Regions from separate parts of the Homo sapiens genome. Here all the other regions are linked to region 3. The links come from fine-mapping of genetic effects on gene expression. A gene starts in region 3. Each other region holds a variant in brackets. All regions are shown on one strand. Distances are from middle to middle. Region 1 overlaps ALKBH5 (alkB homolog 5, RNA demethylase). Region 2 overlaps EVPLL (envoplakin like). Region 3 holds the start of TOP3A (DNA topoisomerase III alpha). Region 4 overlaps TOP3A (DNA topoisomerase III alpha).

What was found. PIP is the estimated chance that this variant, and not a neighbour inherited with it, causes the effect.
Region 1: its variant is fine-mapped to the expression of TOP3A in whole blood (INTERVAL, PIP above 0.99).
Region 2: its variant is fine-mapped to the expression of TOP3A in spinal cord (GTEx, PIP above 0.99).
Region 4: its variant is fine-mapped to the expression of TOP3A in whole blood (TOPMed, PIP above 0.99). The same link has a PIP of 0.9 or more in blood mononuclear cells, skeletal muscle and spleen.

What each region holds. Positions count from the first base shown.
Region 1 is chr17:18,189,830-18,197,930 of GRCh38, reverse strand. It overlaps ALKBH5 (alkB homolog 5, RNA demethylase), which reads right to left. Exons shown (of 4, transcript NM_017758.4): 2 at 2,896-2,976. Among named protein-coding and RNA genes, the nearest start is that of ALKBH5, 10 kb to the right of the region's middle. The variant T/A (reference allele first, on the strand shown) is at 4,366.
Region 2 is chr17:18,379,626-18,387,726 of GRCh38, reverse strand. EVPLL (envoplakin like) reads right to left here. Exons shown (of 11, transcript NM_001145127.2): 2 at 6,727-6,825; 3 at 6,206-6,360; 4 at 5,997-6,124; 5 at 5,089-5,214; 6 at 4,863-4,901; 7 at 4,542-4,702; 8 at 4,349-4,456; 9 at 4,140-4,235. The coding sequence starts at 6,789. Among named protein-coding and RNA genes, the nearest start is that of EVPLL, 5.9 kb to the right of the region's middle. RefSeq lists a silencer at 4,440-4,549 and enhancers at 4,061-4,631, 4,632-5,203, 7,147-7,648. The variant C/A (reference allele first, on the strand shown) is at 3,203.
Region 3 is chr17:18,311,502-18,319,596 of GRCh38, reverse strand. TOP3A (DNA topoisomerase III alpha) reads left to right here and starts at 4,603. Exons shown (of 19, transcript NM_004618.5): 1 at 4,603-4,998. The coding sequence starts at 4,819. It overlaps SMCR8 (SMCR8-C9orf72 complex subunit), which reads right to left and starts at 4,304. Exons shown (of 2, transcript NM_144775.3): 1 at 1,448-4,304. The coding sequence starts at 3,807. It also overlaps the pseudogene RPL7AP65 and the pseudogene RPL21P121. RefSeq lists enhancers at 4,244-4,293, 3,983-4,506, 4,634-4,983, 4,994-5,083, 5,031-5,554 and a silencer at 4,434-4,483.
Region 4 is chr17:18,286,255-18,294,355 of GRCh38, reverse strand. It overlaps TOP3A (DNA topoisomerase III alpha), which reads left to right. Exons shown (of 19, transcript NM_004618.5): 11 at 1,504-1,711; 12 at 3,329-3,514; 13 at 3,670-3,799. Among named protein-coding and RNA genes, the nearest start is that of TOP3A, 25 kb to the left of the region's middle. The variant G/A (reference allele first, on the strand shown) is at 3,308.

The DNA of each region.
Region 1 (8,101 bases), 120 kb after region 3:
GCTGTGCACTTCCCCAGCTCAGCTACCTGGGGAAGCTGGGACATCCTCCCACTCTTCTCCAGTCCCCTTACACCACAGCTCTGTGCTTCTGCACTCCAGCCCAGTCTGTGAATGGTTCCTGGGCCCACTGAAGTCAGAAGGTAGAAGAGCTTCAGTCACCCAGTAACAGCCATTCCCAAGGTCAGGCCACTGGCAGGGACCTAGCTGGCTGAAAAGCTTCCCAGGGAGCTGATTAACGGTGCAGACTCCTAGCTGTGCTGAGGAGCATCTGACTCAGTTGGACTGGGCGGCCAGGTATGGGAGTCACCATTCAATAAAAGAGTAGCAGCTGGAAGACTGACACTCCAGCTATGGCCACTACCACCTGCACATCCAACTAAGATTTCCCCAAAATAAGCTATTATGGGAAGATGAGAGGAACTCTTGGGAAGTTACTGCTCTGGTTCTATGTAACATTAGAAGTTCCTCTCCAGGTTCCTGGCCTGGGCAGGCCACCCATCCCTGGCTGCAGTTGGAGGTACCAGGTACAGCCTGAGAAGAAATGACTGGAGGAGAGGCTGGAAGAGTGCTACACTCTGGACTCCATTGTTTCCGAGTTCTTGCCTATGCTGGTTATCACAGAAAAATAAAGTACAAGGCAGATAAAAACTCTTCCCTTCCTCTGACAAATTCTGGGAACAGTCTTAGGCTAGAAAAGAGAGGCTGCCAACCCCACCAAGTTGACCCAAGTTTCTGGAGCTCCCACGTGTTCACTGCTCTGCCTGTACCATAGGACTGTCCCACAGATATGGATCATACCCATCTACTATAGTTAAAACAGACTAAAAGTTTTGACTTGGCAAAGTGGCAAAGCCATACCAAAGAGACTTCACCACTACAATATTCTGGAGTTATGGGCCCAAAGGACCAGGATGCCAAAGTTATTGTTTACTGACTAAAGTTGATGCACCAGAAAAAATTCCCAATGACCAAAGCTGGAAGAATTTGAGCATAAAATAAATTCCTAGGAGTCCATACTTACATAAAAAATATACTTATATAAATAAATGATTGAATAAATGAAGGAGAGTAGACCAATCCCCCCTGCAGAAGAATTCTAAGTAATTCACCTGCATGCTCCCCCTCAAGGAGATGGTGCTAACTCCCACACTCTTTAACTGTGGGCATGCATGGTGACTTCCTTCCTAAGGGTACAGTATGGACAAGGAAAAACAGTAATTTTACAGTGGAAAACCTGACAGTGCATTGGCCAGATGATCAATATCAATAGTGTTAAGTTACATTGATAGTATATATTCTTGGTTATGTAGTAAAAATGGCATACACTTTACCATAAAAACATCAGACAAATTCTAATTGAGAGATTTTCTATACAATACCTAACCAGTCAATATCATCAAGAATAAGGCAGGCTGGGCATGGTGGCTCACACCTGTAATCCCAGCACTTTGGGAGGCCAAGGCAGGTGAACCACTTGAGGTTGGAAGTTAGAGACCAGCTTGGCCAACATGGGGGAAACCCCATCTGTACGAAAAAATAAAGTTAGCTGGGTGTTGTGGCACACGCCTATAGTCCCAGCTACTCAGGAGGCTGAGACACGAAATCACTTGAACCTGGGACGCAGAGGTTGCAGTGAGCCGAGATGGTGCCACTGCATTCCCGCCTATTCCAGCCTAGGCGACAGAGTGAGACCCTGTCTCAAAAAAAAAAAAAAAAGAATAAGGCAAAGTCTGAGAAACTGTTACAGCCAAGAGGAGTCTAAGAGGAGTCTGAGTTGATATGTCAACTAAATGTAACGTAGGATGATCTTGGGACAGAAAAAGGACATTAGGAAAAACCTAAGGAAATCTAAATAAAGTATGGACTTTAGTCATACCAATAAAAAATTAACAAATAGGAGAAATGGGATGCAGAGTACATGAGAACTCTGTACTATCACAATTGTCTGTAAATCTAAAACTATTCTAAAAAATAAAGTTTAATAAAAGGAAGGAAGGAAGAAGACGACAGACAGCAAGTTTTATGGGTCAAGCCTAAGTTTACGTGCTTGTTTTGCTCTGCTCACTGACTTCTATGACTCTGGGCAATCACCTATCTTCTCTGGGACTCTATTCAAAAGGTAGGCGTGAACCAGGTATGGTGGCACTTGCCTCTATTCCCAGCTACTGGGGAGGCTGAAGCAGGAAGAGAGCTTGAGTCCAGGACTTTGAGGATGCAGTGAGCTATGATGGCACCACTGCATTCCAGCCTGAGCAAGATGGGTGGACAGTGGGGCAAGGCTTGTCTTGATCCAATGTCTGTGAGGCTATGGCTTCTTCCACTCACCCCGTGAAAGAAATAAATGCTGGTGAAGCCAGGTTTGTTGATGTTAAGTAGCACATCCCTGATTCCCTCCCCAGAGAAGAGCCACAAGCCATGATTCTGCCGAATACTACATCCTAACCTCCCACCCTTGTCTCCTCTCTTCACTCCCTGTTCCTTCCAGCAGTGAAAACCCAGGCATTTTTAAAGCAGGCTGCTAAAGGCACAGTCTAAAAATAATCACCAAGAGTACGTGTAACAAATAAGAACGAAGGAGGTGAGGAATAGAGGCTAAGGGGTGGGGTGAGGTTTGGAAGAATGTTGCCCAAATCTTGTCTCAAGATTATACCCACAAATATTGGGCGTATATGCTTTTGCTCAGTCCTAAACTCCCTAAATAGAGTACTTAATTTTCTGATAAAACAACAAAACAACTTTATCCTCACAGGATTCAAATAAAAAGAGAACTTAACAGTTCTGCTCTCCACTCTGCCATGCCACTGATACATAGGAGCTGAGTTCTAAGTGGACCCAGAGCTACATCTCCAGACAGGCCTGCAGGTGAGGCAGAAGGTCAGACATCAAGGCACTTACTTCCTGAGGATGATGACTGCTCGGCGCTCCTTGATGTCCTGAGGCCGTATGCAGTGAGTGATTTCATCAGCAGCATATCCACTGAAAAGAAACACAGAACATGTGACCATGAAGAGTAGACAGACAACCAAAGTTCCTGGGGGATATAACAGGACAGGAACATGGCCTAGGTCTTACGGCTGCTCTCTACCCATTACTTGAGAGTTTCAAGGATCTACATGGAAGGGAATATCATATTAAGTTCCAGGATGCTTTTGCCAAGAGACTGTAATACTCAAGGAAAAACCTGGTATGACACAAAGGAGACCCCTTGGCCACTTAAGGCAGAGGCTGGAAGCAAGACTCTCCCTGAACAGGCCAGGAACCCTTTTTTAAAAGGGTACTCCAGAGAGTACACTGTAGCTCCTCCTCATTCTCCCTCCATTTAGCAGGTAGAGAAAGCCAAGGCAGCCACTGATAGCACTGAGTCACCAGGGAGAGCTAGGACTGCCTCATTCCAAAATAGAATATCTACATGAAGTCTCCATTTGGGGGGATCCAAAATTTTGAAGACAGTTGTGTTTGAATATTTTAAGAATTTCCGGCTGGGCGTGATGGCTCATGCCTGTAATCCTAGCACTTTGGGAGGCCGAGGTGGGCGGATCACCTGAAATCAGGAGTTCGAGACCAGCCTGGCCAACATGGCGAAACCCCATCTCTACTAAAAATACAAAAATTAGCCAGGCATGGTGGTGGGCGCCTGTAATCCCAGCTACTTGGGAGGCTGAGGCAGGAGAATCGCTTGAACCTAGGAGGCAGAAGTTGCAGTGAGCCAAGATCACGCCCACTGCACCTGGGCAACAGAGCGAGACTCTGTCCCCACCACTGACCCCCACCCCCTGCCCCCCGCCCAAAAAAAAAGGATTTCCATCATACTCAGATATCTGTTTATTTTCAACAAGTTACATGACTTTTAAAACCGCTCAGAGACCAACTAATGTGGGTAGATGACTGTCCTCTTCTCAGCTAGCGTCATTCCAATTTGAAACTCTGGAAGCAAGCTCTGAGCTTCCTATACCCCTCACATGCTATCACTGGAAGCATGGCAGCCACAAGATACTCCCACTCCAAGTTACTCTACTGAGCTGCAGCAGTTCTACACACCCAGAAACTCAGCCACAAGCCTAGTAGGACAAGTATGGCTTAGTTTCCCTACCTGGCCCTGTACCACAAACCCTTCTCTCATGGCTGCTGATCAGCTCCCTTCTCAAAGGCTAGTTGTACAGACACAAACTTAACTATTAAAAACACTGCAGGCCTGGGAAGGACCCCTCAAGATGGCCAGGCTGGCCAAACCTCAGCTCTAATAACTGGATGCAAGAGCCAACAAGAGATAAAAAGCCAGACTGCTTCAGGCTCAGCCTTAAGGAAGCACCTCTGATTTGGAAATCTGATTTGAGCTCATGCTGGGGATAGAACAAACCTTTATTT[T/A]ATTTAATTTTTTTTTTTTTTGAGACAGTCTCACTCTGTCACCCAGGTTGGAGTGCAGTGGCACAATCTCGGCTCACTGCAACCTCTGCCTACCGGGTTCAAGCGATTCTCCTGCCTCAGCCTCCCAAGTAGCTGGGACTACAGGCGCACCCCACCACGCCTGTCTAATTTTTGTTATTTTCAGTAGAGATGGGGTTTCACTATGTTGGTCAGGATGGTCTTGAACTCCTGACCTCGTGATCCGCCAGCCTCGGCCTCCCAAAGTGCTGGGATTACAGGTGTGAGCCACCGCGCCCGGCCCAAACCTTTATTTTATAGATCCACCTTCTCCCTCAAGCTGCTCCTAGACAAGAATTTTTCAAAATTTTCTCCATGAACACCAGTCCCATAAGAGACAGTAGACAGGCTAGGCACGGTGGCTCACGCCTGTAATCCCACCCAGCACTTTGGGAGGCCAAGGTGGGCATGTTGCCTGAGGTTAGGAGTTCGTAACCAGTCTGGCCGACATGGTGAAACCCCGTCTCTACAAAAATACAAAAATAAGCCAGGCATGATGGCAGGTGCCTGTAATTCCAGCTATCGCAGAGGCTGAGGCAGGAGAATCGCTGAACCTGGGAGGTGGAGGTTGCCGTGAGCCGAGATAGTGCCACTGCACTCCAGCCTGGGTGACAGAGTGAGACTCCGTCTCAAAAAAAAAAAAAAAAAAAAAAAGAAAAAGACAGTGGACGAATGTCTACAGTGAAATCAATTTGTAAAATACTGATTAGAGTTTCAAAAAGCATTAATATATTTAAAGCACATGAGAATTACTACAGCAAAAGAACCCACTGACTTTGAGCACTTACCAAAGAACCTTCTCTCATAATACCTATTAATACCCATCAGCCCACAGTGAGAAGTACCACACAGGAGTTAGTGAGTTGAAGAGACCTGGGTTCAAATGTGAGCTTTGTCTCCTACTAGCTTTGTGACCTTTGTTAAATCACATGCTGAACCTAAAAACCTGTACAGTTTCTTCATCTGTAATAAGGAGAACAGTAGGTTCTTGGGTATTCATTTTGTTATGCTTTATAATTTAGCTATTCTTTTGCTGCTACTAATATTACAAGATTTTAAAAATGGGGACAGTTTTAAAGATTACAAGATTAAAGTTTTTAAGATTACAAGATTTTAAAAACGGGGCCTCCTCCCTTCCAGGCAGAAAAACAGCATTATATGACTACTTGGTTGACACTCCTGGAAAGGGGTGGTGAGAGGCCTACCTGCAGGGGTATTGCGAGAATTAAGTCAGATAATGCAGGGTGCCTGACACCCTACAATCTTTACTAAGCACTCTGACAAAAGTCAGAGGGCCCTGGACTATCCTGGGGCAAGCCAGAGCCCTGGATTCAGCATCTGCCAAAGAGACATGGTCTGGGCTCCCCCTGCAGGGATCTGCCAGTAGTGGGGGCCGCCTGGGCCCCATTTCCAGAGCTAGGAACTCTAGTTCTCATCCCATGCTTTTATCATTCCACACTGGGGGAATGGGGGTCTAGACTGCAAGACTGTCCCATATAGACACACAATACTTTCCCAAAGAGCTGTCAAAGGTCTCAAAGGCACTTTTTTTTTTTTTTAAAGACAGAGTCTCACTCTGTTGCCCAGGCTGGAGTGCAGTGGCATGATCTTGGCTCACTGTAACCTCCACGTCCCAGGTTCAAGCAATTCTCCTGCCTCAGACCCCCAAGTAACTGGGACTACAGGCTAATTTTTGTATGTTTAGTGAAGACTGTTTCCCCATGTTGGCCAGGCTGGTCTCGATCTCCTGATCACACGTGATCCACCCACCTCGGCCTCCCAAAGTGCTGGGATTACAAGTGTGAGCCACCATGCTCGGCCCCAGAGGCACGTTTCTAAGTCCTGAATCTGCAGTGCTGGCTACAGGCAACCTTCCCTGCCATTGACAAGTGTTATCAATCTGTTTGACTTGGCTATATGCATAACCAAGGGCCCTGACTTCCCATCTCCAACAAGGAACCACTTTTCTTAATGCAGTTCTGGAGCAAATCCAGATGTTTGTCAAAGCTTGACTGCCCGCATGCTCCCTGACCCCATCCCCCAAAGGGCTCTAGAACAAACAATAAGCCATGTCAGGTTCCTGCCACGGAGCCCAGGCCTTGGAAGAACTAGTATGGAGGTAGGGCTGCACAGGCCCACAAAAATGACTTTGGCACTGACCCAACCTGGAAGGCTTATTAGTACTGGTCTTCTAGAACTTCCTAGCAGCTATGACACAGCCCACTGACCCTTTCCTCAGAATATCCGGCTGCTCTGGCAACATGAGCTCAAAGTCCTGATTAAGGGAAGCTCTCCTGGCCAATCTCACAAAATGTCGAGCAGAGACCACAGGGTATTATTTACTATTAAGGAACCTACTTGCTACAAAATAAATTGTCTGAAAGTCTCAGTCGGCCAGCTTGCAACTTAATATGCCCTTGGGTCCAGCCCTACTGCTGGCATGAAAAGTTCCAGGACCTCCTGCTTTTTTGTTTTCACAGGGAAAGGAGAAGAGGAAATAACCTTATGCCATCTGGCTTGCCTGCTCCCTCTCTGGGCTGAGCCCCCAGCCCCAGCCCCAGAGGCACTGACCAGTATATGTTGCAAATGTCACCCACTAGTCCTATACCTCAGAGTGACTCTCGAAGGAGCTGACATGTCTATCTCCTCTTTTGGGGGCCTTTCCCTGACTGCCCAGGCTGGGTTCCCCCTACATTGCTCAACCACACCCTCTCATGCCTCTTTGCTATTCCATCTGGCCTTGTGGAAATTGTGTCTTCCCTTCAAGACAAAGCTCTTCAAAGGCCTTACTCATCCCTGCACAGTGGACACTAAATGAAATGTGTGTTGAGCTGAACTATTCTACCACTTAGAACCTGTTTCTGCCTCTGCAAAACAAAGATCACAGCAAGCCCCTCCTCAGAAGATTAGGTGCAAATTAAATGAGGTGTCTGAAATTTTTTTTTTTTTTTTTTTTTTCGGAAACAGAGTCCCACTCTGTTGCCTAGGCTGGAATGCAGTGGCGCAATCTTGGCTCACTGCAACCTCTAGCTCCTGGGTTCAAGCAATTCTCTGCCTCAGCCTCCCGAGTAGCTGGGATTACAGGTGCCTGCCACCACGCCCGGCTAATTTTTGTATTTTTAGTAGAGACGGGCTTTCACCATCTTGGCCATTCTTGTCTTGAATTCCTGACCTCAGGTGATCCACCCGCCCTGGCCTCCCAAAGTGCTGGGATTACAGGCATGAGCCACCGCACCTGGCCCTGAAAAATTCTTTAAAGAAACTATGCAGGACTGTACATCTCTCCTCTAGGGGACGGTCTTGGAAACTGAGTTGTTATGACACATTTCCAAGATGGCCACCATTTTCCATCTACTCCATGCCCTGCCTAGGCCAGGATGAACCAGAGATGGAGGGACTGTCCAAGATCCCAGCCTGGTGACTGTCTCTCTCCAGCTATGGCTACCTGCCTTACTGACAGACCCACAGGACCAAGAAGGTCAGGCTTTTGGGGGCAGCAGACCAGCCACCTGGACCCAGGGGCAGGATTGTGAGCTCAGGCTCAATTATTTACCAGACCCAAGCCTCCAAGACGACCCATGGCCTAACTTTATAAGAAGTCCTGGGGCTTTCTGAATCCAGAGGGAAGGTCAACCTGCCAAGTCCCAATTCTGTACACACCAAGATAGACAGTACTAAA
Region 2 (8,101 bases), 68 kb before region 3:
ACACATGTTTTTAAGAGGCATAAATACGAAGGTCAGTGTTGTCATGAGGTCAGGCAGGGGTGGGCAAACTATGGCCCACAATCCAGATGAAGCCCCCCTCCTACTGTGAATAAAGGTTTATTGGAGCCACAGTTCCTCCCCTGTGTTCACTTCTTGTCTGGGGCTGCTTTGGGGCTGCAGTGGAAAGCTGAGTAACTGCTGAGTAGGTGCAACAAAGACCACAGGGTCCACGAAGCCCAAGATGCTTACTACCAGGTCCTTTGCAGAAAAATCTTGCTGAGCCCTGGGGAGGGGCCAGGTGGCACCAGGGAGGCCATTGGGGAGGCTGGTACAGTAATCCAGGTGAAAAATGAAGGGAGCTCAGATTAAAGCGGTCATGACAAATGGCTGGAATCAGGATATATTTTGGGGGTATGACCAATATATGGATAAAATGGACAGTATTTAGAGTTTCAGATTTTCTTTCTGCCAAAGGATCCCTTTCTTAAACAAAAAAATTATACAAAAGATCAATTAAAAAACTGACCAGGCCAGGCGCGGTGGCTCACACCTGTAATCCCAGCACTTTGGGAGGCCGAGGCGGGCAGATCATGAGGTCAGGAGATTGAGACCATCCTGGCTAACATGGTGAAAGCCCGTCTCTACTAAAAATACAAAAAAAAAAATTAGCCATGCGTGGTGGCGGGCACCTGTAGTCCCAGCTACTTGGGAGGCTGAGGCAGGAGAATGGCATGAACCCAGGAGGTGGAGCTTGCAGTGAGCAGAGATCAGGCCACTGCACTCCAGCCTGGGCGACAGAGCAAGACTCTGTCTCAAAAAAAAAAAAAAAAAATTAACCAAAAATCATGTCAACAAGATTATTTGTGTGATTGAAGCTGGGGTTGAGCCTAGGCACCCTAACACCTTTTCAGCACCCCTAACACCCCGGCTGTTCCAGAAGCACCCTATAGAGCCCCTTGGGTTCAAGCAGAACTTGAAACCACAGATTGGAAGGAATAGAAATCTGCGTATCTTTCACACAAGCCGTAACATTCTAAGCTGCATCTTTGCAGCACACTGACATGGGGCTACTTCACCCACAGCCGGCAAGCAACTGCACCAGTGCTGGGATTTGTGTCCACCGTTATAAGAAGGCAGCTGCTTGCATGAGGCATGGCGGTGAGGAAACAATGCCACCCGGATTTCACCATTGGCCGTGTGGACTGGCTGTACCATGGGCCAGACGCATGTCTTGGGCAGACACTTTTTAGATGCCAACTTGCCTGTAGACAAAGATGACGCAGAGGTGGCCTCAGGGAGGGCCTATGTGGTGGGTTGAATTTGTCCCCTGAAATTCCTATGTTGATGTCCTTAGCCCCAGTGCCTGAGAATGTGATCTTATTTGGAGACAGCGTCTTATGGAAATAAGTTAAAATGAAAAATGAGATCAGTAGGGGGTGCCCAATTCAATATGACTGATGTCCTTATAAAAGGGCAAATTTGGACACAGAGACATGCATAGAGGGAAGACCAGGTGAAGAGACACCGGGAAGGCCACCTACACGCCAGGAGAGAGACCTGGAACAGAGCCTTCCCGCACCGCCCTGGAAAGGGACTTTCCCTGCCGACACCTTGATCTTGGACCTACAGCCTCCAGGACTGTGAGACAGTGAGATTCTGTTGCTGAAGCTGCCCAGTCTGTGGTACTTTAAGGAAGCCCTAGCAAACCAATGCAGCCTGGTAGCCCACAGCTGGTGAAAAGATGGAATGAGCGATGGAGACTCAGGCTTCCTGTCTATACCTCCCAAAGTGCACTATGGGATCTTTTGCTGGGTGTAGGTTTGCAAGATAGTTCTGGCCAGGGTGGGGACGGCGGGGTGCAGGGTGCATAATTTCAGTGTATATTATCATATGTTTATCTTACTGTGTAAATGCTTGTAAGAACAGTTAACCAACTTAAAGTTTATATGCTACTCAAGATACAGGTTTAAATGCTAATAAAAATGGATGCAAATGAAAACACTGTCCTGCTGTGGTCCAGGGAATCTTGATCTTTCCTTCAGAGAGACTTGCAGCTTTGAGCAGGAGCTGCCCTTTCCTTGCTGCCTACTGCATGCTCCCACAACACACATGCACACACACATGCCTTTGCACACAGCTGGACACACGCATACTGTGCTTCATGCCCTCATTAAGGAGGCACAGAAGGGAATGTATCTGTTAGGAAATGAAGACGGCTCAACTCCCTGGTTCCCTGGGTGTTTGCACAGGTGCCCTCTGTGCAGACCATTCTTTGGTCTCTTTCTTCTCTTAGTGAAGGGAGAAGCAGAGCCCCAGTGGGTACCCGGCTACTTTGGGCCCAAGCCAAGGTCACAAGCTTCCTTGGGAGCCTGGTGAGATGGGGGCACCACTGGTCCTCCCGAACCGAGGGGGCAGCGTTCAGTGGAGCCATGAGCCCAGGAAGGTGATAGACAGGATGACTCAGTTCATTAGAAACAACCAAAATCCAGTGAGGAAGGGCAGCCCTCAAAGGTTTTATTCTCCAGGAGGAAGGACTCTCAGGGGCTGCGAGCAGCAGGCACGAGGGCTTTATTGCACCTGCAGTTAGGTGATGGTGACCTACAACTGCACCGGAAACTGGGACCCAGAGTGCCCCGACCTCCTGCTCTGTCTCTCTCTCCCTCTCTCCCTTTCTCCCCCTCTGCCTCTCTGGCTTCTCTGTCTCTCTTGTCATCTCTTGCCCCTTTCCCCATCTCTGTTTCTCTCTCTCTGCTCTCTCCATCCTCCTCTCCCTCTCAGCCTCCTCTGTCTCTCCCCCATCTCTTTCTACCCATCTTTCGCTGCTGCCTCCTCTGCAGACGAGCTGAAGCCAGTGAGTGGGAGGAGCACCACCCAATCCATCCACAGAGAGCTGAGGCTGGGCCCCAGAGAACCGGGTGGTCCAAGGGAGGCCCAGTGCCCCCTGCACCACACCCACTGGAAAAGGAAGCCCCAGCTCTATTCTGTTTTGTTTTAACAGACAGGGTCTTGCTCTGTCACCCAGGCTAGAGTGCAGTGGAGTGATCACAGCTCACTGCAGCCTCGACTTCCCGGGCTCAAGTGATCCTCTCACCTCAGCCTCCCAAGTAGCTCTGACTACAGGCATGCACCACTACATCCAGATAATTTTTGTATATTTTTTGTAGAGACAGGATTTCGTCATGTTGCCCAGGCTGGTCTCCAA[C/A]TCCTGGGCTCAAGTGATCCACCCGCCTCGGCCTCCCAAAGTGGTAGGATTGCAGGCATGAGGTATTGCACCAGGATTTTTTTTTTTTTAAGACAGAGTCACAGTCTGTCACCCAGGCGGGAGTGCAGTGGTGTGATCATGGCTCACTGCAGCCTCAAACTCCTGGGCTCAAGCAATAGGCACGAGCCACCATGCCTGGCTAGTTTTTATTTTTATTTTTTATAGAAACAAGATCTCCCTATGTTGCCCAGGCTGGTCTGGAACTACTGGGGTCAAGCAATTCTCCTGGCTCGGCCTCCCAAAGTGCTGGAATTACAGGTGTGAGCCACCACACCTGGCCCCCATGAAATATTTATACCACAGATATGCTGTATACAGCTTAGGTGCTGTATGTGGATCTGTACTTCATGCATAAAAACAGTTACTTTTCTGCCATTAAGAACGAATTTTCACCCCCCTGGGAACGGCTTCACCCTGTTGAGAATGTGCCCATGCCTTTCCTTCCCTCTGGGACCGAGTGGCAACCACACAGCTCTATTTTATTTTATTTTTTAGGTGGAGTCCCTCTTTGTCACCCAGGCTAGAATGCAGTGGACCATTCTCGGCCCACTGCAACCTCCGCCTCCTGGGTTCAAGCGATTCTCCTGCCTCAGCCTCCTGAGTAGCTGGGATTACAGGCGCGTGCCACCACCTCTAGCTAATTTTGGTATTTTTAGTAGAGACAGGGTTTCACCATGTTGGCCAGGCTGATCTCGAACTCCTGACCTCAAGTGATCGGCCAGCCTCAGCCTCCCAAAGTGCTGGGATTACAGGTGTGAGCCACCGCGACTTGCCAGCTCTGTCTAGTTGAGAGGTGCAGTGCCTCTCCTGTGGGCCGGTGTGCTGTGGGACCTCCCGCCCTGCCGCCCTGCCGCCCTGCCGCTGCCCGAGGGCTCACCCGGCTGTAGTCCTCCACGTGCTGGAGCTGGGTCTCCTGGCAGATGCACAGGTTCAGGAAGTTCTGCCACTCCATCTTCAGGGCCTCCTGGTGGGCCTGGGTACCGCAGCACGGAGCCCTCGGACCACGCCCCGCCCCCGCACCCACGTCCACCCCCCCCTTCCCCGCCCACCACGTCCCTTCTCACTCTCGCCCTGCCCCCAGCGCACCTGGATGGGCCCCACCGCGGGGTGCCGCAGCTCCACCATGCGCTTGCCGTCCTCCTCCAGCTGGTTTACGCTCTGCTCCTGGCTCAGCAGCTCGTGCTGCTTGAAGTGCTGGGGGCGAGTCGGGTGGGGAGCGGCGGTGAGGACCAGGATGGCCCTGGTCGCCCCCGCCTGGCCCCAACCTCTGCCAGCCGACCTCGTATTCCCGCCGCACGCCCGCAGGGTCGGCCATGAGGTCGCTCCAGTCCTGCTGCAGGATGCGGCGCTGCTGCTCCGCCAGGGCGCTCAGCTGCCACGTGCAGCCCTGCAGTGCGTGTACAGGCTGCCCAGGCTCTGCCCGCGCCACGACGCCGCCCTCTGTGCTCAGGACCCGCCGCCAGCAGCAGGGTGGGGAGAGAGAAAGTGGGGGGCAAAAGGCGCCATTGGGCGGCGCTCAGGAACACTGGCCCCGGGCAGGGTCCGGGCGGCCACCCAGGCCCACCTGCAGCCACCCTGCCCGACCCTCCCTCCTGCTCACCAGTAGGTCTCGGTATTGGCTCCGGATGGTGGCGGCATCCTGCCTTGACCAAGGGGAGAAACAAGCCCGTGAGAGGTGGGGCACAGGGAGACGGCCCCCTAAGATCTGGGCAAGCCATACCCCACCCACCCCTATCCCCAGGGCCCAGCCGATCTAGCTCCGGCTCTGACTGGAAAAACAGGGGCTGGGGCTGGCCCCGGATGTAACATCTTCCCGGCTCACCCACCGGCCCCACCAGGCTCCGCAGCTGCTCTCCTTGGTCGTTGATCTCCTTCTGCACGATGTTGAGCTCCGCGATCTGTTCCTCCAGCTCCGCCATGCCCGGCCCATACTGGCCTGCGCAGACCAGCTTCTGCAGGAGAGCCGGCGGCTCAGTCACCACAGGACCAGGGTGGAGAGCCAGAGAACCCCACACGTCTCCCACCCGGAGAAGTGGACTTGGTCATTTGGGCAGAGCGTGGACGAGCCTGAGAGCAGCCCGGGTGCACGCCCTGCAGCTCACCCAGGGTGAGCCATTCTGCTCTGCAGGGTGGCCACTGCAGAGGCCATTCTGCAGTGGCCCCTGAGTCCCACTGGTTCCCAGACGCTGGGCTCAGCCTCAGAAGTCTCCAGCTCCATCCTGCCTTGTCTGTGACCCAGCCTCAGTGCTTCCTGCCTGGACACCTCCAGCCAAGCTCTAGGGCCCTCAGAACGCCCTGCTGCACCCGGGCCCTTCCCCACTGTTCCTCTATTGTCATGATGACACCCCTTCTGTGTGGCATCAAAGCACAACTCCTCAACCAGGGATCAGAATGCCCCATGTCCTGGCTCTGCCCACCTGGCCAGAAATCCCCACTTCCCATCGAATCCTAGGCTTCCTCCTGGCAGGTGCCTTTGCTCCTTCTTTCTGGAATTGTCCTCTCCTCACTACTTCACCCTGACCCAACCGAGCCCTCTCACCCCTCTGAGGTCTCTTCATGTGCCTCCTCCTACAGGAAGTCTTCCCTGACTGCACTGTCTCCTCTGCTGTCTCCCTGCCCAGACCCCTGAGACACCACTATACACTGACTGTTCAAGCCTACAGTCAGGCCCTGGGTTAAATGCAGTTCCGTATCACCCTCTGATCACACTGGGGTGTGACTTTGAGCTCCTGACCTGTTTCTGCTCCAGCACGTGTGCCCAGTCGACCTTGGATCCCACGTCGGGGCGGCAGCACCATCTTCTCGTACAGGGCACAGTACTCCGCACACTCCTGGGTCACCCGCTCGTGCAGCTGCTCGATGCTGTCAAGAAGGTGGCCAGCAGGTCAGGGCTGGGCCTGGGTCTTCCCCAGGGACCCCCAGCCCTGCCGCAGCCCCACTCACTCCTTCTCAGTCTCCTCAGCCTGCGGGTGCTTGAGCCGCCGGGCCTTGTCCACGTCCAGGAAGAGGTCCTTGAGCAGCACCTCGGCCTCCTTCAGGCTGCTGCCCGTCTCCTGCTGGTGCTGCAGGGCCTGGCTCTGCTCACTGTTCAGCCGGTCCTGTGGGCAGGGGATGGGCAGACTTGCCAGGGTCCAGAGCCCCCACACCCCTGCTGCCCATCATTGTGGGCCTGAGCCCCACCTTTGGGACCCCAGCTATGCTGGCCAACCTCGAGGCCCACGCCAGGCACAGGGTCAGGCCCAGGGCGTCCATGAGGCAGGTGACAAAGACACAGGGGAGCCCAGCAAAGAAGGAAGTTGAGCCCTCTCTCCCACCGTGTGTTAGGGGACAGGCGGTGCAGGACAAATGTCATCTGTCCCATCTTCACCATCACCAGGGGGCACTCAGGGAGTGCCAGGCCTGATGATGGGCCTCCCATGCCACCCAGCCTGCCCACACCCTGCCAACTGCTGCCGGGTTCTCACCTGCTGCAGCCTCTTCTGCGTCTCCAGGATGTCCCGCTCCACCTGGTCGGCGCTGGCTTGCATGTGGGAGATGAGCAGGGTCAGCTCCTGGGTGGCATTCTTGGTGGGTGGAGGGGACAGTGGGCAGCTCGGTGGAAGAGGCCCCTCTGTGCCCCATCCAGGTGGCGTCCCCTGCCCTCTCTCCACCCCATCCCGCCCCCACAGCCTAGCACACTGCCCTGACTTTGGGGTCTCTCTCTGCAGGAGGCTCTGTGAGCTAGACCTGGTTGGGGGTGTTAGCACTGCCCCGCCACATGAGGGGTCAAAAGGTGAGGGTCTCAGGTCTGTGTGGTGCTGGGTGTCAGGCGGCCTCGGTGTCCCAGCCTCAGCCAGCTGTGCTGGCAGTGAGTTCCCGACCCCACCCAGCTGCCTGCCACTTCCCCCCTGTGAGCCGGTAGTACCTGAGCCAGCCTGGCTGGGCCCTGGGAGGGGCAGTTGGGCTGGCTGGGGCAGGGAGGCAGCAGCATGCCCCCCACCCCCACCTCCTCCCACTCCAGCCCTGTGTTCCCCTATACCTCCTCCACCCCAGGGAGCTTTGCCAGAGTGCTGGCTTCAGCAGCCGTCTAGAGGAGCCTCACACTGTCAGAGTCGGGGAGCGGGGGCAGGCGCAAGAGACTGCTGGGCACCCTAACATTCTCCAGAGTTGAGGGTTCAAAGCCCAGATTGTGCCCTAACTTGCTCTGAGTTACGTGGTCAGGGACGGAGGGGAAACCTTGCTTCCACCCCAGGGCTTTTTCTGTGCATTCGCCCTGCAGCCTCCATAGAGCACCTGCTGTGTGCATGCAGTCACTCTGTGGAGGTCACAAGGCCAAGCAGACCTAAAAGAGGGCAGATTGGTCCAAGCCTTATGAGCACAGTGCCTTATGGGGGATCATTATCCTGGGGCAGGGGAAGCCTTGAACTGGGTCAAAGGATGGGCCCCCCCAGGCAACGGGACAGTGCTGGTGAAGGCACAGCAGTCTGGAAGAACTCTGTGGCCAAGACAGCCTGGTTTCATCTTTCTCCATCATTAATGCTGTGTGACCTTGGGCAAGTTACTCAACCTCTCTGTGCCTGAGGTTCCTCACTCGTAAAGCAGGATTTTAATAAAAATATCTATGCCTTAGGGCTATTGTGAGCATTAATTGAATTTATCTGTCTGAAACATCCAGTGCAGGCCTGGTGCAGAGTCGGCACCCAGCACGTGTTAGTTTTTATCCCACTAGAGGGCTAGTGCCTTGAAGGCAGGGGCCTGTTGGTTCTGTCTACAGCGACATCTCCAGTGCCTAGAACAGTCCTGGCATGCAGTAAGTGCTCAGTAAGTTCATGTCAAACGAGTGGATCGCACGTGAGGTGA
Region 3 (8,095 bases):
GGCCAGCAAGACTGGTGTTCGGAGGTGAGAGTCCTGAAAGAGAGTCCATCATGTGAGCAGTGGGCCTGAGTGAGGAGGCACACTTCTGGGCCGTGGTGCTCAGAGTGCAGAGCCTCTGCAGCGCAACACCTCCGAGGATAGGAAGGTCACAACCACCGAAGACATCTCTCCTGCTCGTGATTTTTAAAGCTGGGCCTCAGGTAGGCCCCAGTCTGCCTGCCTGTGTCGGTGCCGGTTCCACCCTCTGAGTGCTTCTCAGGGCCAAGCACTGCACTGTGCTGTGTTTTTTTGGACATGCACTAAACGTGGACCCTTCCGATGGCTCTCAGGTGGGCCCCGGGAGCCCTTCAGAGGTGTTCAACATGATTGGGTGACTGAATGAGATGGTTGGTCCGAATCCAGACAGCGAGTGGTGGCACACCAGGACTTGACCCAGACCACCCACTGCTCCCGCTAACTGCCACAGCCCACAACAGTTTCATCTTATCATACCCTCAGGTGGCGTCTACTGCTCACCTCCCCCAGGAATTCTTTGGGTGAGCTGTAGCCCATCCCATTCCCGTTTGGCCCCGCAGGGGACCCTCCAGGGTGCAGGGCTCCCCACACCTGCCCGCTGCACCTCATGCCTGTGTAGGATGCTGGAGGCAGATGCTCCCAGCACCCAACATCTGCACGTGCTCTGAAGGTTGAAAGAGCACTTACAGGGACAGCAGCCTAACCCTTTCCCCCGGAGTCATCTGTCCCTTCTGATGGGCCTTTTGCTTTTATAGAGAGATGCTCCCTGCAGTCGGGCTGGCAATGGCGACAGATAAATTCCATGTCTTACCTCACACCAACCGAATCAGAACCTCGAGGGCTTGTGACTCAGGAATCCATGATTTTAAAAACTTTCCGGCCAGGCACGGTGGCTCACACCTGTAATCCCAGCACTTTGGGAGGCTGAGGTGGGCAGACCACCTAAGGTCAGGAGTTCCAGACCAGCCTGGCCAACATGGTGAAACCCTGTCTCTACTAAAAATAGAAAAGTTAGCCGGGTGTGGTGGCAGGCGCCTGTAATCCCAGCTACTCAGGACAGTGAGGCAAGAGAATTGCTTGAACCCGGGAGGCGGAGATTGCAGTGAGCCAAGATCGCGCCATTGCACTCCAGCCTGGGGTACAAGAGCGAGACTTCGTTGCAAAAAAATAAAAATAAAAATAAAAACTTTCCCTAATAATGCTGACACAGCTCGGGGACAGATGGGGATTGGCAACCACCTAGGAACTGCAACCCCCTCACATGACAGACAAGGAAATAGAAACCAGAGAGGGGGATGACTTGCCAAAAGTAACACAGTGGTAGGAACTGGGCCCTGTCTAGAAGCCAGGCTTCCTGATTCTGGCTCCACCACACCAATATACCTCATCCCTATCTGGCCAAGGCCCTTCCCCACCACCTGGAACCAGTTACCTCTGCAAGCCAATAAGCTTCCACTTCTGAAAATCCATAATGTGCAAAGGGGAGGAGGCCCAATGTTTCACGGGCTTAGCGTAGCAGCCATAGCTGGGGACAAAGATAGCCAGTGCAGTCACGAGTTTCCTGACTATGGCCTCATCTTCCCCCAGGACCACAAGTGTCCTCCCACTGAGCAGGGAGTAGATGGCTGGGTGGGCAAAGGGGTACTGGCGGATGAATTTTAAGGCGTTCTGGCCAGCCCTCTTTTTATGCCTATCGGAAGACAGGCCAGCAGGATAAGCAGAGGGGATCCTGTCTGAGCTGGTGGACGCTACACTGCTCACGTAGCTGGTGGTGTCTGAGTAGTTGTCCAGGCTGGTCTTACTGATGTCCCGGCTAGCCAGCAGGTGGCTCGGGTCCAGCTCATAAGCGGGAAACCCTTCACAACTGTTGTCTCGGGAAGAAGGGTTGGCATTTTCCACTGAAAAGTCTACACGGAACCCCTGGTCCTTCTGCCTGTGGCGCTGTGGGGGGCTGCTCACCACCCCATCCTCGTCAGAGTGTGTGTGGGCTGGAGTGGAGGGCAGCACCAACTGACCATCGCTCTCCTTCCCAATACAGCAGGAGGAGTCTATTTGTGATGGGGTGTTTTCTATGCTGCCTTCCTCTGTCTCACCCAGTTCTGGAGGACTGATGCTTGCCTGGAAGCGGATGGCTCCTTCATTGCCATCTGGATATGATTCTTCTTCATTAATGGCACTTGGGTAGCTGGCCTTAAAGTCATCAGGGATGAGGGCCTCAGAGGGGCAGGTACTGAGGACTTCAATACTGTCCTCGCTGATGGTCCTGTGGCTGACTGCTTTGCTCCGGACCACCTGGGGGCTCAATGGTACTGTGAGGCTTGCCTGGCTGTCAGATTTAGAAAGCACGGAGGTGGATTTCTCCGTGCCCAAAACTTCAATACTTTCACCACTGCTGATACTCCCTTTCATATCCATATCCAGGTAGTCCAAGTTTTCCTGGGGGTCGAAACTGCTCAACTCAGTCACTTCCACTTCCTTGTACTCCTCATCTCCCAGTTCCTGCTCCATCTTGATCAACACAGACTCCACACTGGACTTGTAAGAACCAACACTAATTAACACTTTAGGAATTGGGCATTCTTCTAGAGAACTGGAAGGCGGCCTGTCTTGACTGGGCTTAGAGGGTATGCTTTCTTGTTTCTCCACCATCCTGTCATCGACCTCCACAAAGTCTTCAAAGAGAAAGTTTGTTATATGCTGTTGTTTTAGAAGTGCTCTATCAATCTGACTGGTCAGGAGGTAACACAGGTCTCCTCTGAACATGTGTTCAATGTGGCTGAGCTGAGCCAGGGTCTGGGTGAAATATTCAGTGTCACAGAGCTCCTCCAAGGTCTTCAACTTCTTGTCAAAACACTTGGTGGACTTTGCTTTGATAAGTTTTGGGGTGTAGGCTGGTCTGCAGGTGTAAAGGTCTGTGTCGGCAGACTCATCAGGGTTAGAGGTAGTGGATGCCTGGCTGGCCTGATCCTGGATGTGCTCCATCTCACCAGGACACAAATCATGCCCCTTCAACTTCCGATGAGGGTATGAGCGGATCTGCTTCAGCAGGTCTTGATGTTCAATGATGGACTTCTCCACACTGGCCAGTTCATTGGCTTTCTCAATTGCCTGAGATGAGTAAAAGCCTTTGTCGTTGGCTTTCTTCTGGATCTCCGTTTCTGTGTGTAGCACTGTCCTGGTGTAATCCAAGTCTTTCAGCTTTTTTTCAAGTTCCCCAGCAAATGCCTTCCTGTTGCCAGTCTTCAAGCACTCAGAAGCTCTGGAAAATTCGGCTGAAAGCTCCTGGAACTGCTGCATGATTTTATGCTGGTCTGCAGAGATATAAGCCATGCAAAACGGCCTCACGAAGCCACGGGCCTCCAGGTCGTATAGGGTAAGGTGGTGCACGTATGCAAAGGCGCCCTCCTTAGAATCTCCCAGCACCACCTTGGAGTCCTCCACGAAGTTCAGCTTGGGGTAGGCAGATCCAGGAGGATGGCCCACGAAGGAAGCCTGGTAATCCACAGACATGATACGCAGGGAGAAGTAATTGAGATCAAAAGTGCCAAAAACTTTGGTGTCATTGGGGATGGTCAGTAAGGGTTGGGGTCCCACCTGCTCAGAGAACTCGGAAATAAGAATGAAGTCCCTCGAAAACTTGGCCCCGGACAGTTTTGACCAGGGGTTAGCACCCTGACTGGCGAAGGGGAAGAGCGGCACCGAGTACTCCTCAGGCAGGGCCGGCTCATTGTAAGGCTCTTCTTCATACTCTTCCTCTTTGGTGAAGGCCACTACGTCAGGGGCGCTGATCATATTTCCAGATATATGAAGAAAACATTGAGAGGAAGTGGGAAAGAATGCGGTGTTAATCGACGCGCAGAAGGCAGGCCTCCGGAGAAGGAAGTGAAGCCCTTACGGCCTTCTTTGCGACTCCCCGAACCCGGGGTCCTAGGCTGCTTCTCACACACCCGAGGAGAAGAACTCTAGCAGCCCCCTCACAGTTGTAGCTCCTCCGGAGCTCTCTGAGGCCTCATGAACGCCAAGGCCGCAGGCCCAACTGCCCTTCTCTTCTTCGTCCGGCGAGCGCGGCCAGCACAAGAAACCTGCTGCGAAATCACCTGCACTCTCCGGAACCCACTGCGACAGCAAAAGCCCCCGCTCTGAACAAGGCTTAACGCGAGGCTACGGGACGCCGCAGGGGTCAGCCAAGCGCTGCTGCCCCTCACTGCCCGAGGGCAGAAACCGTCGCGGCTCCTAGGACGCCACAACCCGGATCCTGCTACCGCGGCGCCGCCATCTTGACATCACATGACTCCTGGTGTCCGCGCCGCGTGACCCGGAAGCGTCCTCGTAGACTTCCGAGCAGGAGATTAAAAAGTCATGAGAAAGAGGCCTTGGATGGGAGTGTCTGGCGGCTCCCCGCAAGAAGGAGTCCGATTAACCAACCACTGCCGGGAAGGAGGGGAAAGAGGGGCGGAGTGAGACGGGGGCGGCGGGAAGGTGGCAGAGGGGAACGTGCTTGGACGAGGGGCGCGGGACAGTCTGGGAGTTGTAGTTCCAGGTCGCTGTGGGGCGCGCGCCTGGCGGAAGTAGCTGGAGAAGGCGGGCGGAAGTTCCACGCCAAGATACTGGATTCGGTGCTGAGGCGGCGGCTGCGGCACGGGAAAGGCTCAGTGACTGAAGCTCCAAAGGCCAGCAGGCTGGTGGGGACGTGACCGAAGCGAGGCTCTGGTTCCCTTTCGGTGGGCGCCATTTGAGCCTCATCTCTGGCTTCCCCAGGATGCGCCGGCAGCCGGGGAGCGGCTCCGGGCGCGAGGTCTGAGGATGATCTTTCCTGTCGCCCGCTACGCGCTCCGGTGGCTGCGACGGCCCGAAGACCGTGCCTTTTCCCGCGCCGCCATGGAGATGGCCCTCCGAGGCGTGCGGAAAGTCCTCTGTGTGGCCGAAAAAAACGACGCGGCCAAGGGGATCGCCGACCTGCTGTCAAACGGTCGCATGAGGCGGGTAAGAAAGCGCGTTCCGATCAGCTGCGTGCCTTAAGGGAGGCCCACCGAGCGGGACAGCGTGGTGGGCGCCAAGAATCGAGATGAAGGCGATTATCTCCCATTTCTCAGGCCTCACTGCCCCTCGTCTGGATTATTGCAGTGGCCTCCTGTCTGCTCTCGGACTGGAGTGCATTTTAAAACGTAGTTGATACATCTCACTCATTTGCGTGGAAACCTTTTGTTTTGCTTGCGCTTAGCAGGTTCCCAAACTTGTCTGATTCTCGGAATCGCCTCGGGCGCTGGCTGCCCTTCGGGTCTTGTGTGAGGCTGGGGAAGTGTGTATTTTACTGTTTTTCCCTAGAGATTCAGAAATTCATTTGGGAACTACTGACCAGATTCCCTTAACTTGGCATTCAAGCCCTGCCCGATCGTTCCCCAGCCAACCTAGCCCTCCCCATCCTGTGCCACAGCCACTGCATTCTACAGCCCTTGTGACTTTCCAGCCTCACAGTGCACACTTACAGCAACACGGTAAGGTTTGGGGATTAGATTTGAAGTCAGCCCTGTTCCTACCCGAATGAACTGATTCTGAGAGAGGTAAGTGGTAAGAATGTGTTCTACACACACGGGAGGCACAAACGCAAGGGAGGATAAGAAAAAGTTTCATAAAGGAGGTGCCACGGGAGACATAAAGAGCTGTCCAGGAAAATATCTCAGATAACAAAAGTAGATCCTGAAATGGTTTTCTGGAGAACTTTTCTAAGAGCATGGGTGGAAGTTCCCTGCTCATTTTTCTTTAGTTCCCAGGGTCCTAAGACCTGTTTCCAGATCAAGGATAGTGGGAGTGGAGCCAGGGTTGTGTGAATGCTGGCTGACAGCTTTACCTGTTTCCAGTGCTAGAAGTCCTGGTGACCAGCCCCAAGGTTTGTCTACTTCTAGACAATGAAGTAGACATTGAAAAATGGTTCTCCTACGCCTAACTTCTTATCCTTCAAGGCTCTGCTGAATTCATTCTCTCTCTCTCCCTTTTTTTTTTTTTTTTTTAAGCAATCCAGAGGTCTTGTATTTATCTATTTTTACCCTATCATACCATGAATCCATAGGGAATAGGTTCCAGCGGCTCAGGCTCTTTTCCATTGGTTCTCACAAAGTGTACTTCCCTCAATGGAACAGGCTGGCACTTCAGGTGAACCCTTTCTCTTTGACTTGCTTCTTTTTTGATCATTTTCCTTCACACATTTCAGGAAAGATCTTGGTTCTTAGAGTGCTTAATATGCTCAATAGAAACATTAATTCTTTGGGCAAGAATCTAGCCCTTGTTCGCAGCAGTGCCAACAGCATGCTGGGTAACATAGACTTTTCCAGTTCTGCCATGTAACATTTGTGGGTCATTCCCTTTTGAACAGTATGCATTCTCACGAAGTCCTCAATATCACCTTCATTGTAGATTCTGGTGTCTGTGGCCAGAGAAACTCCATATTTTTGTTTTGTTTTGTTTGTTTGTTTTGAGATGGAGCTTTGCTCTTGTTGCCCAGCCTGGAGTGCAATGGTGTGATCTCAGCTCACTGCAACCTCCGCCTCCCGGGTTCAAGCGATTCTCCTGCCTCAGCCTCCCTAGTAGCTGGGATTACAGGTGCCTGTCACCATGCCCAGCTAATTTTTTGTATTTTTAGTAGTTTCACTGTGTTGGCCAGGATGGTCTTGAACTCCTGACTTCAGGTGAGCCACCCGCCTTAGCCTCCCAAAGTGTTAGGGTTACAGGCGTGAGCCACCGTGCCCAGCTCGAACTCCATGTTTTCTATAAGGCCAGGAGAACATACATCAGATGCCTCGTCCTCTTTTCCTTTGTGTTCGTCATTTTGGCAAATTACTCCAAGATGGCAGTTCCAGCCAAAAGGAAAGACTTTTCTTGGAAAGAGAATTTTTATTTTTATGTACAGAAAACACAACAGTGTGTACTTAACCCAGTTTAGTGGCAAATTCTTTAGCCTTTGCCTTTTCTAGGTTGGTAATGCAAGCTACAGATTTTGGACCCAGGGCATTGCCTCCCCAGTGACAGCAGATCTCATATGTCGTTGTAATTTGTCCCACCAGCTTAGCCAGAGCTCCTTTGTCTACCAGAAAGTTAACCTTTGTGAAGGTGACAGTGGTGCAGGTCTTCCTGTGGAATTTGACACCACAGTCTTGACGGTGCAGTAGAGAATCCCCATCTTAGGACACAGCACAGGCAGGAAGACAACCAGCTCAATGGGATCCACCACCAGCTGACCCTTCATGCTCTCTACCAAGTTGGTGACGGTGTCAACCCCTGCTCGAAGTGTAGGTGGTCTCTTAGTAGCGACATCCCCTTTGCTGGAAGCTTTCTTCTCAGCCTGGGCCAACGGTTTCGATCTCATCCCTTGCTCTGTCTCTTGTCTGTACTGTGGGCCAGCTTAAGCAATTGAGTAGCTTAAGTTTGGTAGTCTGAGGCCTGGGTGAACTGGTCAATCCCAGGTGGCACATCAGCCACTTATAGAGTACAGCGGCTCTGCCGCAGCAGCCATTTATAGCGGGACTATTTGACAAAGTGGGTGAGGCCCTTAGGCTAGATATCCAATGCCAAAATTATTAGGGCTTTTCTCAAATGGGATTTACCACCTTTTTGGCCTACTGCTGCTCCATGACAACAGGGGCCAGGGCCACTTCTTCCCCTTGGCCATCTTTCCTTTTGGCATCTGGGGCGGCTAGAGGAGAGAGGCTGCTGAAATGTCTCATCTTCAAGGAATCCTTCCCTCACCACCTGTTCCCCCACACTAGGTCAGAGACCCTTACTGACATGCTGTCATAGCACTCTATTCTACTTGAAAGGCATCTACTAGTTACAGTTAAATAATGGGATGTGCGATCATTTATTTGATTTTTGTCACTGCCTCTCCTTGGACTCTAAACTCCAAAGGACAGTGATTATATTTTGTTAATTGCTATGTCCTAACGCCTAATATGGTGTCTGGAATGCAGGAAACTTTCAATAAATATTAATACTTGGGCTGAGCGCAGCGGCTCATGCCTGTAATCCCAGCAGTTGGGGAGGCTCAAGCGGGCAGACCACCTGAGGTCGTGAGTTCAAGACCAGCCTG
Region 4 (8,101 bases), 25 kb after region 3:
CCATCTCAAAAAAAAAAGGAAAAAGAAAGAAATAAAGAAATAAGAGTTTATGGGGAAAAACTGATTGTCTAGATAGCACCCAAGCTCTGAGGTAGGATTTTGACTTTGACTTCTCTTTTCTGATACAGAAAAGGTGTTTCTATGTAAAAACCCATAGAGTAGATTCAGATCTTACTTTTGACTCCTCAGCCATCTCCCTGTGGCCCTGGCAAGTGGCAGACAGTGGGTGGCACCTTTAAAAGTTGTTTGCCTGTGAAACTCCTCCCCGCCCCAGTCATATACACCCCAGCACTGAGGTCCTCTAACTGTGCTGTCCAGCCTGCAGCTATTGAGCAGTTGAAATTCAAGTTGTCCAAATTGGGATGCGCTATAGATGTAAAATATACATTGGGTTTTGAAGACTTCTATGAAATAGAATGTAATCTCAGTAACTTAAGTGACTAATTGAAAATTTTAAATTATGCTGGGCGTGGTGGCTCACGCCTGTAATCCTAGCACTTTGGGAGGCCGAGGTGGGTGGATCATGAGGTCAGGAGTTCGAGACCAGCCTGGCCAACATGGTGAAACCCCATCTCTACTAAAAATACAAAAATTAGCCAGGTGTGGTGGCAGGCACCTGTAATCCCAGCTACTTAGGAGGCTGAGGCAAGAGAATTGCTTGAACCCGGGAGGCAGAGGTTGTACTGAGCTGAGATCACGCCACTGCACTCCAGCCTGGGTGACACAGCAAGACTCCGTCTCTTGGGGGGAAACAAAAATTACAAATAGAGACTGGGTATGTTGGGTCACACCTGAAATCTGAGCACTTTGGGAGGCCTAGGCAGGAGGATCACTTGAGCTCAGGAGTTCAAGACCGACCTGAGCAACATGACAAAACCCTGTCTCTACAAAAAAAAAAAAAAATTAGCCAGGCATGGTGCCACACACTTGTAGTCCCAGCTATTCAGGAGGCTGAGGCAGGAGGATCACTTTAGCTTGGGAGACGGAGGCCACAGTGAGCCAAGCTTGCGCTGCTACACTCCAGCCTGGGTGCCACAGCAAGACTATCTCAAAAATGAAAAAGAAAAAACAAATAGAGTCCACATTACAGTTTATCGGACAGCATTGTTCTTTGTGTACTCTAAGAAAAGTCTTGAAGCACACGCTGGTGGAACTTGTCAGGGTCAGTGAGTCTCATGTGCTGCATCAGGGCTGGTCTGTCAGACTGACCCTCAGAGTGGCCAGTGACAAGCCCCAGGCTATGAGGCTGCTGGCCTTTTTCCTGTGCTGTGCTGCCCCTTTTGGCTTCTTTGAGTGTGCTAGCAGGAGAGCCAGCTGCTTTTCATCCCATGAGGGGGTGCATCTCATCTCAGAACTTTTCTGAAGCAGGTAATGTAGGCTGCCTTCAGTTGAGTTGGCTACATCAGATGAGTGTTTGCAGGTGTTAGTGTGTGCTTTCAGTTGTTTATAGACCAATCAGAGAGCCTAGCAATTTCTTTTTCTGTTTGTTTGCCTTGGTTTTAGGTACATCAGCTATCCCCGAACAGAAACAAACATTTTTCCCAGAGACTTAAACCTGACGGTGTTGGTGGAACAGCAGACCCCCGATCCACGCTGGGGGGCCTTTGCCCAGAGCATTCTAGAGCGGGGTGGTCCCACCCCACGCAATGGGAACAAGTCTGACCAAGCTCACCCTCCCATTCACCCCACCAAATACACCAACAACTTACAGGTTGGTTTCCCTGAATGTACTGCCTGCTGGAACCCATAGGGAAGTGCTGGGGGTCAGTAGTAAGGTTTGAATTTACTCTGTGGGCTGTGATTGTAAAAACAAGTGATTTTGAGATCTCTCTCATTTCACAATCCTCTGCCTGGCTTTGATAAAGACCGCCTCATCCCTCCCCGTGGTGGGCCCCCGTCTTAATCCAGCTCCACATCCCACTCTCCATCAGCTCCTGCTGCTTCCCTGCTAGTCCTTCATAGGCAACCCCTGTGCAGACCCCCACCTCCACTGTGAGCCTTGTGGCCTTCCCAGTCCCTGGAACTAGAGAATTCTATCCATCCTCCCAAGGCTGGCTCAGTTTTGGTTGCCTCCTGAAACTTTGCTGCCACCCCAGTCGTGCCACCCCCTGTCACTGCAGTTTCCCACACAGCTCTGCTTGTCTGTCTCAGTCATTTCCTCAGCCAGGGGCAGGCTCTGCAGGCACAGGAGCCATTAGGCTTGTTTACATCTGTAGGCTTCTCACAAAGTTGGGGAAATGCTTGTTTACATCTGTAGGCTTCTCACAAAGCTGGGGAAATCTTAGTCTTTTGTTCTTCTCCTCCTTCTTTTAATAAAATACATTCTTTCTGATTTTAAAAATATGGCCGGACGCGGTGGCTTATGCTTGTAATCCCAACACTGTGGGAGGACAAGGCGGGTAGATCACGAGGTCAGGAAATTGAGACCATCTTGGCCAACATGGTGAAACCCCATCTCTACTAGAAATAGAAAAATTAGTTGGACGGGGTGGCATGTGCCTGTAGTCCCAACTCTCAGGAGGCTGAGGCAGGAGAATCGCTTGAACCCAGGAGGCGGAGGTTGCAATAAGCCGAGATTGCACCACTGCACTCCAGCCTGGCGACAGAGTGAGACTCTGTCTCGGAAAAAAAAAAATTACATGTTCATTTTAGACAAATTAAGAAATACAAAAGTTTATAAGGGGGTAAAATTGCCTATTAAGCATGATATTTAACAATTACAAAGATGTGCCATAATTTATTTTGCCAAATCTGTTTTTTGTGTGTTTTTGATACTATAGTTAACATTTGTAGACATAAATATTTTTGTGGTTCTCCAGTTATTTCCTTTGAAGAAATCCTTAGAAGGGGAATTATTGGATATGTGTATAAATGTCTCATGGGCTTTTGATAGACTGAGGCTCACTAAATCATTGATTACCTAATTGAAAATTACCCTGAAAATTACTGCTTAAATGTGTGCATGAAGTTGGGCTAAGGCCACCAGGTGCAATGTTGCTGTCTCTTGTATTTGAGGAGTGTCTTGCTAACTTCTTACGCTTTCATCTTGTTTTCTGCTTAGATTGCGTTTACATCAAAGAACCACTTCCCAGTCTGGAAGGGAAGATGACTCCTTTGCTTATCTTTGCCAGATTTGAGTTGTGAGATGTGTCAACCTAAACCCATCCTCTCCCCAGGACTTGTTTGCCTGGCACTCCATGTTAGTGCAGGGCCTGAGGAGCAGTGTGGCCTCTTCTGTGCAGGACATTAGGCTAAGGCTACCAGTGATGCTCCTGTCCTTGAGAGGTGATATTCTAGGGGGAGTTTC[G/A]TACTCCTCTTTTCTTCCTAGGGAGATGAACAGCGACTGTACGAGTTTATTGTTCGCCATTTCCTGGCTTGCTGCTCCCAGGATGCTCAGGGGCAGGAGACCACAGTGGAGATCGACATCGCTCAGGAACGCTTTGTGGCCCATGGCCTCATGATTCTGGCCCGAAACTATCTGGATGTGTATCCATATGATCACTGGAGTGACAAGGTAATAAAGAGTGGTCCCCAGTGAGAGGGAGGACAGTTGTGTTGTGAGCCCTGAGTTCTCTAGTGGAGCAGGATCATGTTCCTTGAAATGAGGTTATTTTTTGCCTGAGTGTGCTGATGGAATCATCTGACTGTTGCACCTGCCGCTCCCTGTAGATCCTCCCTGTCTATGAGCAAGGATCCCACTTTCAGCCCAGCACCGTGGAGATGGTGGACGGGGAGACCAGCCCACCCAAGCTGCTCACCGAGGCCGACCTCATTGCCCTCATGGAGAAGCATGGCATTGGTCAGTGGCTCCTCTGGGTAACTCGCATCTCTTGAGCTAAGGCTTACAGTGTACCAGGTACAGGTTTCCTCTAGTCTTCAAACCATTCTCTAATGCAGCTGCTATATCTTTATCCCATTTTATAGTTGAAATAAGGCTCAGAGAGGTTAAGAACTTACCTAAGTTCACAAAGTGTGTATTATTAAAACCTGGTCTGAATAACTCCACAGTCAGTGCTCTTAAACCATGCACTGTGCTGTCCACATAGTAACAGAGACTTTTCCCATGGCTTTGAGGGCCCAACTGGGAGCACCCATTGGCCACATGAGGATTTGTTGTTCTTTCGAATAAGAACAGCATGTAAGGAACCAACAATTAAAACTTGGGACAGTTATCATAAAATCTATCTTCATTTTGAAGTGTCAGATAGAGCCCTGAGCCTCCTTCCCATGTGGAGCATTGGGTGAGGGTGGCAGCTGTCTCTGCAGGTCTGAACCCACACTGCTCACTCAGGCTGCTCACGCTGGCCTCATGTATGTGCCAGGACCCTGCTGATAAGTCCCATGGCTCAAGCTTTGCAGGTAGGGCCTTGTAACTAATCTGCTGTCCCCTCCATTCGTTTTTGTCAAGGCTCTCAAGGGCTTTCTCTGGCAAACCTAGTCCAGGAATACCTGCAGCACAGTGGAGGGGAAGCAGAGCTCCCTGGGCATGTGTTACATAAGCAGCTGCGTCATCCACAAAGGGAGTTTCTTAGGCCTATGACTTGGGAAGCAGTGCTTCAACGTGAAGTCCTTGACCATCACTAGGACATCCAGAAACCCTGCAGGTTTAGGTAAAATTAGTAGAGGTTCACCCGTCATGATTTATTTGATAAAAATGTATGAAGGCTGGGTGTGGTGGCTCACACCTGTAATCCCAGCATTTTGGGAGGCCAAGATGGGTGAATCACTTGAGCCCAGGAATTCAAGACCAGCTTGGGCAACACGGTAAAACCCCATCTTGCTGGGCGCAGTGGCTCACGCCTGTAATCCCAACACTTCAGGAGGCTGAGCTGGGTGGATCACCTGAGGTAGGGAGTTTAAGACCACCAACCTGACCAACATGGTGAAACTCTGTCTCTACTAAAAATACAAAAATTAGCCAGGCATGGCGGTGGGCACCTGTAGCTGAGATTGTGCCATTGTACTCCAGCCTGGGCAACAACAGCAAAACTCTGTCTTAAAACAAACAAACAAACAACAACAACAACAACAAAACAGATCTGGCTGGGCACGGTGACTCATGCCTGTAATCTTAGTACTTTGGGAGGCCAAGGCGGGTGGATCACCTAAGGTCAGGAGTTCGAGACCAGCCTGGCCAACATGGCAAAACCCCATCACTACTAAAAAAATACAAAAATTAGCTAGGCGTGGTGGCACATGCCTGTAATCCCAGCTACTTGGGAGGCTGAGGCAGGAGAATTGCATGAACCCGGGAGGTGGAGGATGCAGTGAGCCAGGATCGCAGCACTGCACTCCAGCCTGGGTGACAGAGTGAGACTCCATCTCAAAAAAAACATTTCTACAAAAAATTAGGTGCATGCCTATAGGTAGGGAGGCTGAGGTGGGAGGATCACTTGAGCCCGGAAGGCAGAGACTGAGGTACAAAGTGTGAGGCCCACAAGAGTGAGAGCTTGGACTAAGCACCAGGGACACAAGGAGGAATAAGACCTCATTTTTTAAGTTCTCAATCTAACAGAAGAACCAAACCAACACATTGAATACAATGTAATAGTTCTGCAGGGAGTAGGCAGGGAAGAAAATGTGATGGGTGGACTGGCATTTGAGCTGGACCAAAACCTCATAGTAAGACTTCTGGATCAGCGAAGGGCAGCCCAGTGCAGGGTAGGCCTGAGGAAGGGCACAGGAGCAGGAAAGCAGAAGCCTGCTGTAGCTGGATTGGAGGGGGGTGGCCATAGAAGGTGAGCCTGGAAAGATGATCCAAGCCTGACTTTGCAGGGCCTTGGCTTGCCCAGTTGAAGGGCTTAGATGGTGGTACATGGTCAGCAGGGAGTCTTCCAGGATTTCTAAGTAAAGGAACCACATAGAGGTACACTTACAAAAAAATAATAATAATATTTTTAAAAGATTATTAACAGGCTGGGCATTGTGTCTCACACCTATAATCCCAGCACTTTGGGAGACCAAGGTAGGGGGTCAGGAGTTCAAGACCAGCCTGGACAACATGGTGAAACTCCATCTCTACTAAAAATACAAAAAATTGCTAGGTGTTATGGCTGACGCCTGTAATCCCAGCTACTTAGGAGGCTGAGGCAGGAGAATTGCTTGAACCCGGGAGGTGGAGGTTGCAGTGAGCCAAGATTGTGCCACTGCACTTCAGCCTTGGTGACAGAGAGAGACTCCATCTAAAAAAAAAAAAAAAAAAAATTTATATATATATATATATAATTATTAACAGCTTTATTTATATACCATACAGTTTATCTCCTTCAAATGTATAATGTACATTTTTTAGCATATTCACAAAGTTGTGCAGCTATCACCACAGTCAGTTTTTTTGTTTTTTTTGTTGTTTGTTTGAGATGGAGTTTTGCTCTTGTTGCTGCAGGCTGGAGTGGAGTGGCACAATCTCTGCTCACTGCAACTTCCGCCACCCAGGTTCAAGCGATTCTCCTGTCTCAGCCTCCCGAGTAGCTAGGCTTACAGGCACGCACCACCACACCCAGCTAATTTTTGTTATTTTTAGTAGAGACAGGGTTTCACCATGTTGGCCAGGTTGGCTGGTCTCAAACTCCTGACCTCATGATCCGCCCACCTAGGCCTCCCAAAGTGTTAGGATTACAGGTGTTAGCCACCATGCCCGGCCCCTAAAAAAATTTGTTTTGGAGAGATAGCATCTTACTCTGTCACCCAGGCTAGGTCACAGCCATGAACCCTGGGTTTCAAGGGATCCTTCCACCTCAGCTTCCCAAGTAGCTGGGACTACAGGCATGTGTTGCCATACCCAGCTAATTTTTTTGTTGGGTTTTTTGTTTGTTTGTTTTGTTTTGTTTGAGACAGAGTCTTACTCTGTCACCCAGGCTGGAGTGTAGTGGCACGATTTCAGCTCACTGCAACCTCCGCCTCCCAGGTTCAAGAGATTCTCCTGCCTCAGCCTCCTGAGTAGCTGGGACTACAGGTGCGCATCACTGGCTAATTTTTGTATTTTTAGTAGAGATGGGGTTTCACTGTTAGCTAAGCTGGTCTCGAATTCCTGACCTCAAATGATCCACCCGCCTCGGTCTCCCAAAGTGCTGGGATTATAGGCCTGAGCCACCATGCCCAGCCAGACTTTTTTGTTTTATGTAGGGACAGGGTCTTGCTATGTTGCCTAGTCTGGTCTTGAACTTGCACCCTCAAACTGTCCTCCTACCTCAACCTCCCAAAGTGTTGGGATTACAGGAGTGAGCCACTGCACCTGGCCAGATTTGCCTACTTTAGTTATTTCCTATAAAGAGCCAGGCACAGTGGCTCACACCTGTAATCCCAGCACTTTGGGAGGCCAAGGTGGGCCAATCACTTGAGGTCAGGAGTTCGAGACCAGCTTCACCAACATGGTGAAACACTTTCTCTACTAAAAATGAAAAAATTAGCTGGGCTTGGTGGCAGGCGCCTGTAATCCCAGCTACTCGGGAGGCTGAGGCAAGAGAATCACTTGAACCCGGAAGGCAGAGGTTGCAGTTGATGGACACTTGAGTTGTTTCTACTCTTTGGCTATTATAAATAATCCTGCTGTGAACAGTTTTGTACAAGGTTTTGTGTGGATATGTGTTTTCATTTCTCTTGGGTAGACTTAGGAGTGGGATTGCTGGTTTACTTGGTAACTCTACATTTAACATTTTTAGGAACCACCAAACTTTTCTGAAGTGGCTGTACCGTTTTTCATTTCCACCAGCAAGGCACTAGGATTCCAGTTTATCCACATCCTTACTAACACTTAGTATTATCTCTCTTTTTGATTTTGCCAGTAGGTCTGAACTGCTATTTCACTGGTTTTTTTGGTTGTTTTTTTGTTGTTATTGTTGAGGTGGAGTCTCGCTCTGTTGCCCAGGCTGGAATGCAGTGGCTCGATCTCCGCTCACTGCAGGCTCCGCCTCCCAGGTTCATGCCATTCTTCTGTGTCAGCCTCCTGAGTAGCTGGGACTACAGGTGCCCGCCACCACACCCGGCTAATTTTTTTTTTTTTTTTTTTGTATTTTTAGTAGAGACGGGGTTTCACCGTGTTAGCCAGGATGGTCTTGATCTCCTGACCTCGTGATCTGCCCGCTTCGGCTTCCCAAATTGC